Linked DNA regions of Homo sapiens: region 2 is linked to region 1. Evidence: fine-mapped expression QTL. Tissue or cell type: testis. Region 1 holds a variant in brackets; the other region holds the start of a gene. All regions are shown on one strand. Distances are between the middles of the regions.

The links. PIP is the estimated chance that this variant, and not a neighbour inherited with it, causes the effect.
Region 2: it holds the start of TMEM178A, and the variant in region 1 is the best candidate, but not a certain one, in a credible set for the expression of TMEM178A in testis (GTEx, PIP 0.86).

What each region holds. Positions count from the first base shown.
Region 1 is chr2:39,382,038-39,389,259 of GRCh38, reverse strand. All of the region lies in intron 1 of MAP4K3 (mitogen-activated protein kinase kinase kinase kinase 3), which reads left to right. Among named protein-coding and RNA genes, the nearest start is that of MAP4K3, 52 kb to the left of the region's middle. The variant A/C (reference allele first, on the strand shown) is at 3,251.
Region 2 is chr2:39,662,447-39,669,668 of GRCh38, reverse strand. It overlaps TMEM178A (transmembrane protein 178A), which reads right to left and starts at 3,752. Exons shown (of 4, transcript NM_152390.3): 1 at 3,295-3,752. The coding sequence starts at 3,694.

The DNA.
Region 1 (7,222 bases):
TTTTGTCTAATTTTATGTCTGTGTACACCAGTTAGGTTTTTAATTTCGTTTTTTATTTCTAGAAATTCTATTTTGTTCTTTTTGTCCTGTCTGCCAAGTCATTTTTGTTAGCCTCTTGCTTCTGACCCATGTATTTATTTATTTCTAGTGTTAACTTTTAAAAAATCTGTCCTATGTATTTAATACCTTCTTTTATTTCTTTAAACTTTTAAAGCGTACTTGATTGTAATGTTATATATCTTTTAATTCCTAAAATTTAACTTCTATGGATTTGATTTGGTTTTTCATAGTTTTTACTGCTCTGGTGGTTTGTTTCCTTTTATGCTTGATAATTTTGTTTTAAGCTCATATCTGCCTAATAATATTATGTGGTAATTTCCTGGAGTATGGGTTGAAGATGTGTTTATCTACAGATAATTTGTTTCTCCCTCTGCCAGGTGCCTTGTGTTACCACCAACCCAGAAACAACTTAAATTTATTTCTTGACTTGAGGCTCCTGGCCCTCAAAATCAGTGTAAATTTTAACCCTATGCTCTACTGGGGACAGACTTGTGATTATGGATTTCCAGGGAAGATATTTTGATTCTAGTGAAGGCCTGATTTGAACAAATTGCCTGTTGTGGATAGAGCCCTTTTCCCCAACCTACCTGTGCGGTGTGACTCTTCAAGGGCATTGCTGGTTTTATGCAGTGGTCCCAATTTCAGCTTTCACCACATCTAATAAAAATCAAAACTGAAGTCCCTAGATTCCAAGTTTAATCTAAGGCCATGGCTTGAGCTTTTGTTTACAGCTCTGATTTTATTCAGTAAATACATTTAACAGATTTTTTAAAGCTGTTTATACTACATCTCTTTGTGCCACCTGTGAATTTATTTGCTTGTGAGTTCAGTGCACGTAAAAGAGTGTTTGTTGTATCTTGTCTGCTATTTCTAGATATTTGTAATGGAAGGATATTTTATATCTAGTCTAACTTATTTCCAAAAGTGAAATCTTGGAAGGTGTTTACGCACATTGGGGTCTGAGCACCTTTGGGCTAGAAATGCTGCTGCTATTGCTTCTATAGTGCAAAGTTGGAATTGGTTACCTGATCTCTTATGCTTTCCCAAACTCAGTGCTACTGTTAAGTTTTATCCATATTATTAGTGTGGTCTGCCAGTTACCATTTAGAAGTGTTATTGATATGGAACAGGTCCATTTTTGAATTCCAAAATTCAGAATTAAACTTTGAAATACAAATTACTGATATGTTGGAACTGTCTGTACTCTTTTATCACTCACAGATTATTTTCCATGTCTATATCCAATTATTATCTGCTAAGTGCATTTTTTGAAAGTTAATGATAGCCTCAATCTGTTTTTAAAATTTTTTTTTATTAGGACCAGGTAGTCCTAGAAATGTAGATCTTTAATTATCTGGTTTTAAGAAACAAAGAGCCATTCAAGTTAACTTAAGAAAAGAGAGGCTATTGTAAAGATACATGATACACGGAACTGGAAGCTTGTCAGGAACTCAAGGCAGCTTGGAGATCTGCTCTTTTCTTATGGTCTTGTAATTTTTTCTGTCCATCTGTTGGGTTATTTGCTCTTTATTGATTGTCTCTTCATTGCGTCTTTTCTATTTCTTCAAAACTTCACTTTATGCCCAAAGTCCTGCATGCTGTGACACTGGCACATAGCATGGTTTCACAGTGAGTTACATTGCATGGTGGTGCTATTTCTCAGTATTTCCAGTTTCAAACATTTTAGAGTTGTGCTGTCTAATGCAGTTATCACTAGCCACGTGTGACTTTTAAAATCAAAATTGAAATTACGTATAGGATCTGTATGCTGATAACTGCAAAGCACTGATGAAAGATATCAATATCTAAATAAACAGAGACACCTGCCAGTAGTGTTCATGGATTGGAAGACTCCACATAGTAAATATGTCAGTTCTTTCCAAATTGATCTATAGATTTAATGTACTTCCAAATAAAAGTCCCAACAGCAGATTTTTTTTTTTAAACAGACAAGCTGGCTCAAATTTATATGGAAAGGCAAAGGACCTTTGTTGCCAAAGCAACTTTGAAAAAGTAAAAGTTGGAGGAATCACAAAATTATTGTGATTGTAAATTTAAAATTTACTATAAAACTACAATAATCGGCCGGGCGTGGTGGTGGCTCATACCTGTCATCCCAGCACTTTGGGAGGCCAAGGTGGGTAGATCACTTGAGGTCAGGAGTTGGCGATGAGCCTGGCCAACATGGCAAAACTCCATCTGTACTGAAAATACAAAAATTAGCTAGGCGTGGTGGCACACCTGCAGTCCCACCTACTCAAGAGGCTGAGGCAGGAGAATCATTTGAACCCAGAAGGCAGAGGTTGCAGCGAGCTGAGATTGTATCACTGCACTCCAGCCTGGGCAACAGAGTGAGACTCCGTCTCAAAAAAAAAAAAAGAACAACAAAAAAAATTACACTAATCAAGACTGTATAGTGTAGGTAAGAGATAAACACACAATCACTAGATCAATATAGATCAACATGGGGTCCAGAAATAGATCCACACAAATATAGCCAATTCATTTTTGACAAAGGTGGAAGTCAGTTCAATGAAAGGAAAATTGACTTTTCCACAAATGATAAGAAAGAGTTGGACATATACATGCAAAAAAATGTACCTAAACTTAAACTGTACACCTTACACAAAAATGATCTCAAAATGTATCATGAAACTAAATGTAAAAACATAAAACTTTTAGAAGAAAACACAGGAGAAAATATTTGTGACCTGGAGTTAAGCAAAAAGATCTTGGATGTGATACCAAAAGCACAATTCATAAAAGAAACTATTGATAAATTGGACTTTATCAAAAATAAAAACTTTTGCTCTGTATATTTGTTTGGCAAGGCTGCCATAACAAAATGCCACAGACTGGGTGGCTTCAACAGTAGAAATTTATTTTCTCATAGTTCTGGAGGCTGGAAGTCCAAAGTTAAGGTGCCAGCAGGGTTGGTTTCTCCTGAAGCTTCTCTCCTTGGCTTGCAGATGGCCTCCTTCTTGGTGCATCTTCACATGGCCTTTTCACTGTGCATGTATATCTCTGGTATCTCTTCCTTTTCTTAAAGGGACATCAGTCTTGTTGGATTAGGGCCAACCCATATAACTTATTTAACCTTAATTACCTCTTCAAATGCCCTTCCTCTGAATATAGTCATGTTCTAAAGTGCTGGGGGTTGGGACTTCAACATATGAATTTGGTAGGGAGC[A/C]CAATTCAATTCATAAATTCTGCAAAAAACACTGTTAACAAGAATGAAGAATAAGTTACAGACTGGAAGAAAACATTTGGCTGGGTGCAGTGGCTCATGCCTGTAATCCCAGCACTTTGGGAGGCCAAGACGGGTGGATCACCTGACGTCAGGAGTTTGAGACCAGCCTGACCAACATGGTGAAACCTCATCTCTACTAAAAATACAAAAAAATTAGCCGGGTGTGGTGGCAGTTGCTTGTAATCTTAGCTACTTGGGAGGCTGAGGCTGGAGAATCGCTTGAACCCGGGAGGCGGAGGTTGCAATGAGCCAAGATTGCGCCATTGCACCCTAGCCTGGGCGATAAGAGTGAAACTTCGTCTCAAAAAAAAAAAAAAATTGCAAATCATATATCTGACAAAGGACTCATATATAGAATATATATATATATATATATATATATATATATATATATATATGAAGAACGCTCATAACTCAGTAAGAAAATAAATATTCCAGTTAAAAACATGGATGAAAGACTGGAAAACAGTTCATCAAAGGATGGCAGGTAAGCACATGAATAGACTAAGAGCATCATTAGTCATCAAGGAAATGCAAACTAAAACCACCATGAAATAGCATTTACCTACCTATTAGGATGGCTGAAATAAAAAATACAATGCCAGCTCTTGGCAAGGATGTGAAGCAAGTGGAACCCCACCATGCGTTGCTTCTGGGAATGAAAAATGGTACAGTCACTCTGGAAAGTTGGGCAATTTCTTATAAGGTTAAACATATACCTACCATATGATATGACCTAGTCACACTCCTGGGTATTTATCTACCCTGTATACAAATGTTTATAGCAGCTCTTTCCGTATTTGCCAAAAACTGAAAACAACCCAGATACCCTTCAACTGGTAAATGGATGAACTGTGGTAAATCCATACAGTGGAACCCTACTCAGCAATAAAAAGGAATAAACTAATGATATATGCAACAACTTGGTGAAAGAAGAGTCTAAAGATGTTATATAATGAATGAATTTATATGGCATTCTCAAAAAGAAAAACTGTAGTCATAGAGAACACGTTAGTGTTTCCAGGGTTTAGGGAGGATTATGACTTCCATTGGAGTTTTTGCAGTGATGGAACTTTCTTATTTCCTGATGGTGGTGGTGGTGGTGGTTACATAATCTAATATATGTGTTAAAATTACTAGAACTGTATCTTTAAAAATCCATTTTATTGTCTGGTAGTTAAAAAAATTAAAAACTCCAAATTTTAAATATTTCATTTTGTACACACGTACAATTAAACAAAATTCAGTTTTTCACTTGCACTGGCCACATTTTAAGTGATCAATAGGCACATGTGGTATGGGGCTAATGTATTGGATATTGCAGATACAGATCATTTCCATCAATGCAGAAAGTTCTTTTGGACAATGCTGGGTTTTCTTTGTTTTGTTGCTGTTGTTGTTTTGAGATGGAGTTTTGCTCTTGTTACCCAGGCTGGAGCGCAGTGGCGCAATCTCAGCTCACTGCAACTTCCGCCTCCCGGGTTCAAGCGATTCTCCTGTCCCAGCCTCTCGAGTAGCTGGGATTACAGGCACATGCCACTGCGCCCAGCTAATTTTTGTATTTTTAGTAGAGATGGTGTTTCATCATATTGGTCAGGCTGGTCTTGAACTCCTGACCTCAGGTGATCCGCCTACCTCGGCCTCCCAAAGTGCTGAGGTTACAGGCATGAGCCACGACGCCCGGCTTGAGCCACCATGCCCGGCCGACAGTGCTGTTTTAAAGCAAGGATCAGCAAGTTGTCGATAAAGGGTCAGATAGTAATACTTCAGGCTTTGTGAGCCATATGGCCTCTGTCTTAGCTACTCAACTCTGCCATTGAATTTTTTTTTTTTTTTTAATACTGGTCTTACTCTGTTGCCCAGGCTTGAGGACAATGGTGTGATCATAGCTCACTGCAGCCTTGATCTCTTGGGCTCAATTGATCCTCCTCCCACCTCAGCCTCTTGGGTAACTGGGACTATAGGCACATGCTACCAAGACCAAGCCCAGCTAATTTTTGTATTTTTTGTAGAGACAGGGTTTCACCATGTTTCCCAGGCTGGTCTTGAACTCCTGGGCTCAAGCGATCTGCCCACTTTTGCCTCGCAAAGTGCTGGAATTACAGACATGAGCCATGTACATGTGGCTATGTACCAGTAAAACTTTTATTTACAAAAATAGACATGTTTGCTGATCCCTATTTTAGAGAATTTGCCCTGTTTCCTATTTTCATGTCAGCTCAGGGTTTATTGGTATATTAACCTTATAATTTATCATCCAAATTTAATAAATGTTCAGTTGTTTAAGAGTGAACACAGGCACTCTTATTGTACTGGTAGAATTATTAATAATTCTACCGGTACAATAGGCATAACCAGGAGTACTCTGGGTAAACCAGGGATGTATGTCACTCTGTTAGTTTTCCTATGAATTGGTTGCCCTTGTAGTGGACACATACCTAGTGACATGATTTGGCTGTTTCCCCACCCAAATTTCATCTTTAATTGTAGTTCTCATAATCCCCACATGTTGTAGAGGAACCTGGTGGAGGTAATTGAATCATGGCGGTGATTACCGTCTTGCTCTTCTCATGATAGTGAGTTCTCATGAGATCTGATGGTTTTATAAGGGGCTTCCCCTCTTTTGCTTGGCACTTTTCATTCCTGTTGCCACGTGAAGGAGGACATGTTTGCTTCCCCTTTTGCCTTGCTTGTAAGTTTCCTGAGGCTTCCCAACCCTGCGGAATTGTGAGTCAATTAAACCTTTTTCCTTTATAAATTACCGAGTCGCAGGCAATTCCTTAAAGCAGCATGAGAACAAACTAATACACCTAGTCTAATCAACTTTGGGAAAGCGAACATGAAGCCATCCCTTCAGCAGTGAGCATGGGTTATCCATTTTCTTCTGAAAGGGAGTAGTTGTATGGGAAGTACTCTGAGGTTTGGCTGGCCTGGTACACTCAAAATAGTCTGTGTTTTCTGTCCCCAAGCCTTTGCTCATGCTTTTCGTTCTGTGCCCTTTTCCCCATCCCTTTTGTATGTTTTTCCTAATTCAGGCCATCTTTTCAAACCTCTGCATAAATGGTAACATCTTCATGCCATCATTCCTGTAATACCTTTTCAGGCTTATAAGTTGGTGGTTACATTTTCTAAAAGTCAGTAACATAGTGCTTTAAACTGGGTCCCCAAACCTGACTGTGTATCAGCAGTACCTCAGTAGCTTAAGATACAGAATCCTGGGTCCCATTCTTAATCGCTTGACCTAGAATTCAAAATTTGTAGCAGTATTTTGTTATTGTTTTGTTTTGTATTTAAACTCTTTATATGATTTTTATATAACCAACTAGCTGGTTCAGTATTTGGAATCTGTTGATTTAGAATGAAATTATTTGATATAAACATTGACTTTTAGAATTAGAAGGAACCTTAGAAATAGCCTGTCTTCACCTTCATGTTATTAAATTGTGGGCAGAGGGGTCAGGAAGAAGACACAAGGGAAATTACTTGCTCAGATCCCATTGCTGGTTACTGGCAGAGCCAGGACTAAACGTTGTTAACTCTCACTCAGAACTTGTATTCATATTCACATCGGACATGCCCTTCTACATAGTAAGGTTTGAGTACTCCAAGGGGCTCAATACATAGTAGATGATGGTCAGATGTTTTACTGATAATGACTGTTTCTAACCCACTTTATATTGTACCTAGCACATTTTTTGGCTCTTAATGATTGCTGCTTGAATATGTTGTTAACCCTCAGTTCACTCTCAAGGAATGCCTTTCTGATAGTTGGAGATAATTCCACAATCTGCGTGAAATCATCTCAGAAAAATTCTTTCCAAAACTAGTTCAAATCTGAATGGCCTCTGAAAGGCTCACTGAATCAAACTAAATTCTGGTACAGCTTTGAAAGTTAGTACTTTCCCAGAGCCC
Region 2 (7,222 bases), 280 kb before region 1:
TCTAGTCTTGGTTCTTAATGAGCGTATCAATAACTTTACCTCCATTCTTTCTGAAGGTTCTGGCTAAACGTCAAGCCTAGACCATTCCAGGCTCTGGGCTAGATAGAAGTGAACTTGTATCATAATAAGAGTGTGAAAACAAGAACTTGATGATTCTCCCAAATACTTGTCCCATTGAGATAAATGCTTTTCTAGCTCCAGTGATTTCTCTTAAGTAGACTAATATTATAGAGCCTTGCATATTTCTAAATTAATCTCTTATTGCCCACATTGCATGTTTCTATCCCCTGTACATCTCTCAGAAATATATCTCTCTTGTCTTGCCTCCAGTAATAGGAAATGTAAATAATTCCTATTATGAGAATGTTTTCCATATTATCAACTCTACATTTTCTTCCCTGCACTCCTCATTCAACTCCTAGCTTTGCCCTCTAGGTCCAGAGAAGAAAATGCTGACATCTTTGCCTCTCAGAAGCTCACTAAGCATGCCAGACAGTTCTTGAGCCCTTTTTCCACCCCTCCCCACTCTCCCATCTGAATAAACTTTTCATTTCCTACCATTAAAATTTCTAAACGATGCTAAGACTCATAAACAAGGTAACTCATAGAAGAAAGAATGGAACTTGGGACTCTAGTTGCTCAAATTTTAAAATTAGATACAGTGTTAATTTCTAGTTTTATAAATGGCTCATTTAAGAAATTCATACCACAGCCACTAATGTCAGATGCCAAAACAAAGGTGATAATGTTTGCCTAATATGGGTGCCAAAATCATCTTTGAGCCAGGAAAATGTTGGTGACATTTTCTTTTCTCAAATTATTCATAGACTCAGAATTTTAAAGCTGCTCTTGTCACCCATACATTTCACAGATGATGAAACTGAGATCTAGAAGAATTATGTAACTAGCCCAAGGTTGGTTAGTAGCAACATTACAAGGCATTTCTGGACATCTCCCAAACAACAAATTATGATCCTATAATCTACCAATGCCTGTTCTTTCCTCCAAACTCCTCATTGCTTAATAGCGTTGGCTCATTAACTTTGCAAGAAGCTAAATTTACATTGTTATTAATTATAACAATGACAGATATGTGAACTAGAAATTTCTCTAAAGAATAGTCATCCCTCCTAATAATACCACAGACAAGGAAACCGAAGGCGAAGAAGGTCTTGATACTTGGAGAACACACTGCAATTTAGCAACAGAGCCAGCAATGGGGCCCATATCTTCTGTTCACAACCTAGAACTCTTCAGTGTTCTACACAAAAGATTAGCTAAACACCATCAATATTATAAAGCTGAGATTGTTTTCATCTAAAAATAGGCATTCGTGACTGGGAAAATCTAGTTCTTTTAACGAGTATATGAGTTCCGTCTTACGGAAGTACTGGGCTAGACAACCATTTGTCAGAAAGATTGTAGAAGGGAATTTGAACAACCAGTAGATGTTCAACTTCAATGACCTCTAAAGTCCTTCCACCTCTATTATTTGACCCTGGACTGCCCTGGAACTGGCACCTCAGTTAGCCAGGGCATTTGCAGAGGCATTGTGCAATATCCTGTGGGGGTCCCCTCTTCTACTGTAGGTTTGACTCTGCCCTGCTGTTTCAGGCATTGCTCTATATCCAATTTACATGCAATCAAATACTCTAAGCATAGAAAGTGTAAGGAAATGCAGTTCTGTCATTTCCAAAGACAGACTACACTGCTTAGCTTTCAAAATTGCCTTGCCTAAATGAGCACTCCATAACTGAGCCTCCACATTCAGCTTTTACAGTTTGTTCATGTACTATGCTACTATCAGAATTAATTATGCAGCATCTTCATGAGGAGAAATCAGATTTGGATGCAAGTTAGGAGAGAAAAGAAAATGGTGCACTTCCCAAAAGATTTTACTGTATCTGGTTCCCCTAAAAGTGCTGGAGTCCTTCCACACGCAGACAGATTTTGGATGGCAGTCCCCAGCTGAGTTAGCCATGGGAAGGAGGAAGTTGACATGTTTGAGAAATGAAGAATCCGCCAACTAGCAAGACTCTGAAGGCCAACACATTATTAACCCCCTCTTTTCTATGTCATTCCATTCCAGGCTGTAACTCAACACAAATCCGTCTGTTTGTTTTCCTACATGGCTACTAAATATTAAAATGTACTGATTTTGGACTTTTTCTTTTTTGGCATCATGAGTCCAAGAGAAGAGATGTTGATTTTTTTTTTTAATCTCAAAGGGGAAAAAAATACATTGAGTCAAGTTCTGAAAGTTAAAGGAAGCTTCACAAGTTGTCACACTGAATATTTTTACGTGAATGGGATTACCAAAAAAAAAAAAAAAATCAAACTATCTGATAGCATTCACAGAAGACAGGTGTTGCACAGATTTCAGAAGAACAAATTGATGCTCTGCAACTCAGTGCCAAACAAAACAAACAACAAAAACAACCTGACAAGGTACCACGAACAGAAGACAGAGTGATAAGCAGAGAGTGAGTGCCCAAATCTGGAAAGCTCTAGTTTAAAGGGCGAGGACATTTTCTCTCCTCAGTGCCTGGACAGCGAGGAGGGTGGGGGTATGGGGTCCTCAGGAAGGTTGGAAAGCAGGTGTCCTATCTGCCTCGGGCAGCCTCCACCAGCCTCCACCAGCCAACGATTGGTCTCTGAAGTCTAATCCACACACACCCTGCACTTCAGGGGTATGAAGGAAGGTTCCGGGGCCTCCTTCGCTGCCCATCAGCCCTGCCAGGCTGGGATGACCACATCAGTTCCGTCTGACACCAGCATCCGCACAATACAGGCAAAGCCCCTTCCCTCTCTTCGGAGGTCGGCACCACTTTTCTTCCAAACGGTATTTCCAAAAGGAGCACAACTTGAAGGAAGGAGCCCGGGTGAGAAAAGTCGAGTCTTTGACGGTTAGTCCCCCTCACGGGGAGCAGCGTCAAGAAAAGACACACATGTCAGGCAGGTGTACAAAGGCAGAGAAGGACGGGGAGAGAGAGAGAACCGGGGAATGGGAGGCGAAGGCAGGAAAGAAGGAGACAGAGGCGGGAGGTGCGGCACGGACTTGAAAGGACGCGCAGGATGTGGACGAAAGAAGAGAGTCAAGGAGAGGGAGAAGAAGGGAGGCAGTGGGGAAAGAAAGGGAAGAGATAAAGACTGGAGGCGGCGGGAAGGATGCAAGAATGCCCAGGCGCGGGGCCGCGGCTGGGAGGGGGCTGCGGGGACCGGCGCGCCCCTGGGAAGCCGCGGGCTGCGCTCCACGCGCGGGCGCCGGGGACGCGGGGTGCGCCCGCCGCTCACCTTTCAGGATGAGGGTGTCGATGTCCCGGTCGATGCCCAGGAAGTAGCACTTCCTCCAGAGGCCCGAGTAGGTGGCGAAGAGGGGCCGGCCGCACTCGGCGTCCAGCCCGCCGAGCCCCAGGAGCGAGCGCCAGGACTCGGGGTCGGCGCGCCCCGGGCCGCCCGGGAGCAGCCGGCGCCCCAGCGGGGGCGAGTCCCGCAGCGGCAGGTGCGACAGCGGCATCAGGCGGTTCTTCTGGTCCGGGGGGTCGGCGCCCGCGCGGCTGCGCTCGCAGCTCTCCTTGTGGCGCCGGGGGTCGGTCTCGTACCAGTGGTCGGTGAAGATGGCCGTGACGAGCAGCCCCAGGGAGCACAGGCTGAGGCCGAGGCTGAGCGCCGTGACGAGCGCCCGCGGCTCCATGGCTTCCCGCCCCGCCGCAGCCGCCGGTGGGCTCGCGCGCCGCCGCCAGACACAATGCACTTGGCCCCAGCTCTCCGCCCGCTCCCTCCCTCTTCCCCCCACCTGCCCCCCACCTCCCTCCTACGGCCTCCTCGCCCTGCGAGCCCGGCCCGGCTCGCTCCCTCTCCCCTGGCCTGATCTCGCCTCCCACCGCCCGCCCGCCCCCGGCCCGGCCCCCGGGCTCCTAGCCCTCCCCCGCGCCGCTCTCGCTTTCTTGCCCCCCTCCTCTTCCCCAGCCCCCTCTCCTCGCCCCGGCGCCCCCCACCCCGCGCACTCCTCTCGCCCCTCTCCCTACCTCCGATCCACAGTCCGCCCTCCTCTCCAGCGACCCCCCTTCCCCTTTTAATCTCTCCTCGCCGCCCTCATCCTCCTCTCTCCCCTTAACCCTGTCCCTACTTTCCCCCGACTTTTCTCCAACTCTTCCTCTCACACTTTCCCCCACTCATTTGCTCCTCTGCTCCCCGGCTCCTGGTGCATTTATATCCCGGCTCTGGACTCGGTGCCTCTCTCCACCTACCCCTCGGCACACCCCTCCCGTCCTCTTCCCTCCAACGACCTTAAAAGACATCCACCGACATAAGACTCACTCTTGTCACTTGTCCAAGTTGATTTTGATCAGTGTCCCGTTTTGTACCCAGGAGCAAATCCCATCCAGGTCGGGCTGCGTGGTAGCGTTTAACTCCTTGGAATCTTGATCTGGAGTCCGAAGGTCCCTTTGTCCTGCCGCCTGCCGCCTGCAGGATGAAGCCTCTGAGACCCCTAGGCAGCCAGCTCTATCTGTCGCGGCTCTTTCCCTCTCACTTGCCCATCGCTTAGCCTCTAAGCATTCTCTCTGCTCAAGCCCCTCTTCTGAAAGAAAAAGACACCGAGTGTCAGTGGAGCGATAGAACGATGACCAGAGATTTTTCTCCCACTTCATTTCAACCTGCTATGAGATGGACTTCTTTTTTCGTTGACTACGTCCATCTCCCGCCAGACTGACTGGCCTCCTGGAATTTCTAGAAGAGCCTGGAATCAATGAACCCTGGCAGTGGCACCTGCTCCATGAGGTGATTATTGCCTTTGCATACAGCAAGCCCCCAGTAATAAATCAAAGTAATGATTTTCTCCTGTGCAGGTTTCCTTCTTGGGCTGGGGGGTGGGGGTCAACAGCAAAGCAATGCTACACACCAAAGTCAACACCTGAGCCTGGGGCAGTTCTTCCATCTTCCAGTCACAGAGGTTACTTCCAAGAATGGCAGGCAGATTCACATTTTCTAAAATGAGGAAACGCTAGGACCCGGGGTGCTAAGAGTTAATCACTTGTGCGGTATAGTCAGTCTATACCACAGAGGTGCAATACACTCGTGCCACTCAATGCCCTTGTGGTCATGTCAGAGACAGAAAACCATGCTGCACTGGCCCAGGGATGAAAATGCTTGTGTTCTTATGCTATGAAATATTAATGATGAAGAAATTATGAGGCATTCATTACATGCTAAATGTCATTACTCCATGATTTAATGGGACTTATTAATTAGTGCCCTACATCAATTGGTATTAATATGCTTTATATCCTTCCTCTAGGATGACATCTGTAAAGGTGGTATAAGGCTCTTGCTGGGATTTATTTTCATTGCTGTTTGTGTTTAGCATCTTCAGAGGGTACATTTCCAGTGAAGATCGTGTGCCTATTCTGAGCGGTTCAGTTCATAGATAGATCACTTAAGCAAATCTTTCAGTTATATCAGACCCGCATTCCCATTTCTGCTGACCTGACAGTGTGAATTATTGCTTGGATTTTCTCACAGTTTCAGCAAGGTCTATGGTGAGCTCTAGTCTAATTAAGGAAGACAAAGAATTATAATTTTAGTGTTCCTCTCACCTATAAGCTTTTCCTTCACAGCAAACACTGAGCTCATCAAAGGAGTCTTAGCTGGATTTACACAAAAATGATAAGACTTAGAAGCTTTCTTTAATTTATACTCTACAATATGTATAAAATCCTAGATCTTAATAGATGCACAGAGAGAATACCTTTAACTGTGAGTCCACAGTTGACATCTGAAATTCACTCAAGTCATCATGTGTTCTTTTATTTTTAGAAATGCATCTTGAGATAAAGTTATCAAAACCTTGGAAGCCCCAAGGGTTGTCAAGCCTTTAGCAAGTCCTCATCCCCTTTTCAAGTCTTCACCTCATGTATTACAAGAAATAAATATTCAGCCACATTCCAGAGTCACCTAATCATCTTCACACAATAACCCTGTCTTCAGCTGGAGCTAGACAGAAGAAAGCCTCTTTTTAAGGCACTTCTGTTTAAATTAAAAGAACTTACCATTCTGTCTCATTTTCCTAGCTAGAACTCTTTGATCATACTCTTTTTAGAAAATAGCATTATTCTTCAAGTTCATTTATGTCTATGTTTAAGACCATTCTCAGCATATAATCCAAAGGTTACTATATGATGGATTGCCCTTGACAGTATTTCATAAAAAATGTCACACATTACAAATATGGGCCAGCAGTATGTAATGAGAGCGCTGCCTCTGCTGGTGCAGCATTAATGGCGCCAGCAGGGATGTGGCATATGATGTGTACACAGGCTTTGTTACAGCAACTGCACATTGCTCCATCTATGTTTTTAAAATTCCCCTTTTGGATACTTCCAACAATGAACTATCACCCAGTAGCCCCCTACTCTGTTAGGGGAGTGAAAAATATGAAGATGAGTAAGTGGTGCCCATCTTCAAGATACTCCCAGCCTAGTGGCGAGAAACAGATGTATTGACAGAATGAGAGGCAAATGCTGTAGTAAAAAAATAAAAGAGAACAAAGGGTCATGGGAACATGGACAATGAAGAGACTAACTGCCGTGGGGAGTCAGGTGGGCTACATAGAGACAGTAACTGTTGAGTTAGTTCTTAAAGGATGAGTTAAACTTTGCCAAGAGGATATCAGAAATATTTGTATTGCAGTCAGAGAATACCTCTTTGGCCTAGTGTCTACTTCATACATTTGGAGGCTTCAGTGTCTTAGGCCACTGTAAAATAAGTATTTTTTGTACATTTTTAAGTCATAAAGTTAACATGTTCTAATGACTGACTACAAGCTGGATAGCTGTAGATGAGTGGAAGGAAAAGTCTATACCTGAATATAATCAGTGTAGGAGGCCATTTAGCTCAGCATGGAGTCAAGATGATGGGAGATCAAATATCCAGCCAGAACACCTGGCATATCTTAGCTGTGGCTATGCTATGACCTTGATGTTTTCAAACTTAGCTTGTTTTTTATTTGTCTTAAATTTCTCTTTGCCATCTCCAGATCCGATATCCCCAGTGCATCCCTCAGAGAAAAACAGAATCCCTCACATGACAGGGAGAGCCGGAGAATTTCCACCAGGGTATTTTAATGTGTTATTGGGCTCAAGATATTCAAAATTAAAGTCTCATATTTCCTTATGGTCTAACTGCCCTCCTCAACTCTTTTGCTGGTGTTATATCACTCAAT